Linked DNA regions of Homo sapiens: region 1 is linked to region 2. Evidence: fine-mapped expression QTL. A gene starts in region 2. The other region holds a variant in brackets. All regions are shown on one strand. Distances are between the middles of the regions.

Evidence for each region.
Region 1: its variant is fine-mapped to the expression of CSNK1G1 in whole blood (INTERVAL, PIP 0.90).

The regions. Positions count from the first base shown.
Region 1 is chr15:64,240,971-64,243,754 of GRCh38, forward strand. All of the region lies in intron 4 of CSNK1G1 (casein kinase 1 gamma 1), which reads right to left. Among named protein-coding and RNA genes, the nearest start is that of PPIB, 79 kb to the left of the region's middle. The variant A/T (reference allele first, on the strand shown) is at 954.
Region 2 is chr15:64,354,941-64,357,724 of GRCh38, forward strand. It overlaps CSNK1G1 (casein kinase 1 gamma 1), which reads right to left and starts at 1,233. Exons shown (of 12, transcript NM_022048.5): 1 at 1,048-1,233. RefSeq lists silencers at 499-558, 949-1,008, 1,119-1,168.

The DNA of each region.
Region 1 (2,784 bases), 110 kb before region 2:
AAGCAACCAGAAAAAGATTAACAAAATGAGAGGAGTAATTCCTCACCTGTGAAAAATAGCCTTGAATATAAACCGATTATATTCTCCCACTTACAAGATGCAGACTGGATGAACTGATAAAAAACGATGACCCAACTATATACTGCCTACAAGAAACTCACTTCACCTATAAAGATATATACAGACTAAAAATGAAGGGATGGAAAAAGATATTCTACACAAATGGAAACCAAAAGCAAGGAGGAGTAGATATATCAAAAGATCTTAAGTCAAAGCTGTAAAAAGCAACAAAGAAGGTAATTATACAATGTTAAAGAGAACAATCCAGCAATAGGATATAACCAATTGTAAATATATGTGTGCTCAATGTCAGAGCACTCAGAAAGATAAAATATTATTGGATCTAATGGGAAAGATAGATTCCAGTACGATAATTGTTGGGGGCTTCAACATCCCATTGGATTTAAACATCACTTTAGACCAAATAGACCTAACAGACATTTACAAAACATTTCATCCAACAGCTTCAGAGTATATACTTTTCATCAGCATATGGAATATTATCCAGGACAGGCCATGTGTTAGGCCTCAAAACAAATTTCAAAAAATTTAAAATAAATGGTATAACAAATATCTTTTCTGACCATAAGGAAATAAAACCAGAGATCAATAACAAGAGGAACTTTAGAAACTGTATAAATACATGGAAATTCAACAACATGCTCCTGAATAACTATAGTGTCAATAAAGAAATCAAGATGGTGTACAGCAATAAACACATCAAAAAAGTAGAGATTTCAAATAAACAACCTAATGATGCATATCAAGAAACTAGAAAAGAAAAAAAAAACAAGTCTAAATTCAGTAGAAGGAGAGAAATAATAAAGAGCAGAAATCAACAAAATTAAGACCAAAAGTTGCAAAAGATCAATGAAACAAAAAGTTGTTTTTTT[A/T]AAAAAAAAGATAGACAAAACCAACAAACCATTAGCTAGACTAACCAAGAAAAAAATGAGAAGACTCAAATAAATAAAATCAGAAACGAAAAAGGAGACATTACAACTGATACCACAGAAATACAAAGAATCATTAGAGACTACTATGAACAACTATATGCTAACAAACTGAAAAACCTAATGGAAATGGATAAATTCCTGGACATATACCACCAACCAAAACTGAACCATGAAAAACACAACCTGAACTAATTATGAGTGATAAGACTGAAGCAGTAACTTATTCCATCAAAGGAAAGGCCAGAACCTGATGGCTTCTGATATAGTTCAAATATTTGTCCCTGCTCAAATTTCATGTGGAATTGTAATCTCCAATGCTGGAGGTGGGGCTTGGTGGGAGGTGTTTGAATCATGGCGGTGCTGTCTTCATGGTAAGTGACTTCTCATTAGATCTGGTCATTTTTTCCCCCACTTTCCCCCGACTCCCAGTCACTCTTCTTCCTACTTTTGTATTGTGATGTACCAGTCCCCACTTTGCCTTCTGCTATGACTGTAAGCTTTCTGAAGCCTCATCAGAAGCCAAGCAGATGCCTGGTGCCACACTTCCTGTGCAGCCTGCAGAACCATGAGCCAATTAAACCTCTTTTCTTTATAATTTATACAGTCTCAGGTATTTCCTCATAGCAATGCAAGAATGGCCTAATACGGCTTCACTACTGAATTCAACCAGATTTATATCAATAACTAATATAAATTCTTCTAAAACATTAGAAAAGTGAAGAGGAGAAAATTCTTCCAAACTCATTCTGAGTCCAGGATTACCCTGATGCCAAAACCAGACCAGGACACAACAACAAAAGAAAACTACATAGCAATATTCCTCATGAACATAGATGCAAAAATTCTTAACAAAATACTAGCAAACCAAATCCAACAATGTATAAAAAAGATAATTCACCATGATCAAGTGGGATTTATTCCAGGGATGCAAGAATGATTCAACATACATAAATTAATATATGAGATATATCTCATGAATAGAATGGACAAAACCGTATGATCATCTCAATAGACACAGAAAAGGCATTTGATAAAATTCAACATCCCTTCATGATTAAAAAAAAATCCTCGGCTGGGCGCGGTGGCTCTCGCCTGTAATCCAAGCACTTTGGGAGGCTTTGAGGAGGGCGGATCATGAGGTCAAGAGATCGAGACTATCCTGGCCAACATGGTGATACCCTGTCTCTACTAAAAATACAAAAATTAGCTAGGTGTGGTGGCGTGAACCTGTAATCCCAGCTACTCGGAAGGCTGAGGCAGGAGAATCGCTTGAACCAGGGAGGCAGAGGTTGCAGTGAGCCAAGATTGCGCCACTGCACTCTAGCTTGGGAGACAGAGCGAGACTCCATCTCAAAGAAAAACAAAACAAAACAAAACAAAAAAAACCCTCAACAAACTAGGTACAGAAGGAACATACCTCAATGTAACAAAGGTCATATAGGACAAATACAGCTAACATCATTTTAAACAGGGAAAAGCTGAATTTCTCCTCAAAAAATTGGAACAAGACAGGATGCCGTCTCTCACCACTCTAATTCAACATAGTACTAGAAGTACTATCCAGAGCAAACAGGCAAGAAAAAGACATAAAGGGCATCCAAATTGAAAAGGAGGAAGTCGAATTGTCCCTATATGCAAGTGACATGATTGTATATGTGGAAAATCCTAAAACTGCCACCAAAAAAATTCTCAAAATGAATTTAAAAATGTAGTCAAGTTGCAAGATACAAAAGCAACATGCAAAAATTACTAGCCATGTGCCTGTAGTCCC
Region 2 (2,784 bases):
AGCAGAACATTCATTCTCTCTCTGAAAATTCACATATCTGTTCTGAGACATCACTACACAGCACCTAGTATTCAGTCACTGATTGAAACAAAAATGAAGAGGATCTTTCTACTTCATTTAAATTAGGACAGGTTTACTGGCAGGTAAGAAAGAGGCTGCAAAAGCCTTGCCTCAACATGTCTTGCCTAGACCTGTGATACATCTATATGGTTTCCCCAGTCCATTCTTTTTAAATAAACACGTACATCTACTACACAAGACTACACCTGGACTAGCCTATTGTTAAATGCTTTTCAGAATTCCACTTTTCTAAGGTAATTTATACCGGAATTAATATCGAGCTGGGAGACTTGGTTGAATATGTCATTCAGGCACTTTCCAAACATCTTAAGTGTCATTTAGGGGCAACAAACCCAGTTCCACTCTCTTTTACATTGTGATGCCTGCCCACTTGGGGGACATTGCTCCTGTAGGACGTGGGGGCGAGGAAACAGTAAAGGAAGAAGTGGGGGAAGCGTACGGAAGTTGGGTAGAGGAAAGTCTCATTACCCACTCTTGTGCCCTAAGCTCCGCCAAGGGCGGCTCCCCGCGGTACCCAGTCGACTCAGAACCCCCACAACCTTCGAAGTCCAGCTCTGTCCCAGCGGGGTGGGTAGGGAAAGAGGGCAATGGAAGCACGGGATAGCCCCAGTCACCCTGACGAGATCTGTGCCCTCCTTTTGGCTCCCGGGGGATGCTCCCCCTTTCAGAGTAAGCCCTCCAGGTGGCAAACTCCCGGTCCACACCGGCTAGAGTCAGTTTCTCGGAAGGGGCGCCTCCTCCGCCTACCTCTACCCCGCTAACCGAAACTCTCCACCCGCTGTGTCCCTCAGCCCCTCCATTCCGCCCCCGCAACCCTCCACAGACACAAACGCCAGCCTGCGCCCCACCCGGGATCACGGCGTCCCCCACCCACGCCCAGGAAAGGGCCCCCCACCAACCCCCTCAGACACACACACACCCCCTCAGACTTCAGCCTACAGAACCCCGACGAAGCCGGGCAGATACCTGGTCCAGCAGTGCTGCAAGGCGCAAATGAGGCGGGCGCGGTCCCCTCCCCGAGGCGCCAAGTGCTTCTCTACCCACCCGCAGCGGTGGTTTCTCTCTTTCCCAGGAGCGGGAGGGAGGGGAGAAGGCGGACGGGAGGGGGAAGGCGAGGAGCCGAGGGGCGGCTGGAGCCGAACCGGAACCACTAGCGCGGCCCCGCCCTCGTCCCGGAGTCGCAGAGTACCCTGGCGGGCCTAATAGGACAAACTTTGGGCAGGCAGCGTTAAACTGACACCATCACTTCCGGGTTATCCCCACGGCTGCCCCCTCCTTAGCAACCGCGTGGGGTTGCTAAGCGGAAGTGCCTTCAAAGCAACCCACCCCCATTTCTTCTGGGACTACCAGAAGATATATCGGGAGCACTGAGCTCTGCTTTGGCAACACGCTCTTACCTTCTGCTCAAGATCTTAGACCAAGTACACGCTTCGCTGCCAGAGGCACGAAACCCATCCCGCTTTTCCCTTCAACTGTACTCCTCCACCAAGCCCCCGTCTCTATATACTCCTGCTCCCTCCCACCCTTAATCCCGTGGCTGACCCAGTGGCTGTTCCTAAGGCTCCAGGCTCCTCTCTCAGGTCCCTCGAGGGAATTATTTTCTGACGGTTTAGCAAGCATCTCCCTCTTGTGGATTTTTAATTGTGTTTCAACCAGATTTTTAAAATTTCTTTCAATGTTGTGAAAGGTTTTTCATGCACTTAGTTCTCCTGTGACAGCCCATGAAGCCGAATGGTTAGAAAAATGTTGTCTTCACCTACATTTTGTAAGAGCTGCACATGTTTGTGTAAGGTCTGGAATTAACCTAGCCAAATGGAATAGGCAAAAAAGATTCAATGTAACTCGACAGTTATTTTAATCCTTAAAACAGAGAGCAGGGCACATGTTCTCAGGACCTCTTGAGACTGCGCCTCGGGGGCGGGGTGGTGGTGGAAAAAAGACAGAAAACAAAGAAAAAGGCTAAAGGGAGCCCATAATCAAATTTGGGAAGGAAGAAGACTGTCTAATCCTCCACTCAAAACTCAAAATATGCCGGGTGCGGTGGCTCACACCTGTAATCCCAACACTTTGGGAAGCCGAGACTGGCGGATCACGAGGTCAGGAGATGGAGACCATCCTGGCCAACATGGTGAAACTCCGTCTCTACTAAAAATACAAAAATTGGCCGGGCGCGGTGGCTCGCGCCTGTAGTCCTCCTGTAAGCACTTTGGGAGGCCGAGGCGGGCAGATCACGAGGTCAGGAGATGGAGACCATCCTGGCCAACATGGTGAAACCCCGTCTCTACTAAAATACAAAAAATTGGCTGGGGGTGGTGGCACGTGCCTGTAGTCCCAGTTACACGGGAGGCTGAAGCAGGGGAATTGCTTGAACCCGGGAGGCGGAGATTGCAGTGAGCCGAGATCGTGCCATTGCACTCCAATGGCACTCCAGCCTGATGACAGAGCGAGACTCCGTCTCAAAAATAATAATAAATAAATAAACAAACAAACAAAAATTAGCTGGGCGTGGTGGCGTGTGCCTGTAGTCCCAGCTACTCGGGAGACTGAGGCAGGAGAATCGCGGGAACCCGGGAGGCGGAGGTTGCAGTGAGCCGAGACCGCGCCACTGCCCTGCAGCATGGAGACAGAGCTAGACTCCGTCTAAAAAAAAAAAAAAAAACCTTCAAAATAAACTTTCATACCGACACTATGGATAAGAAAAGA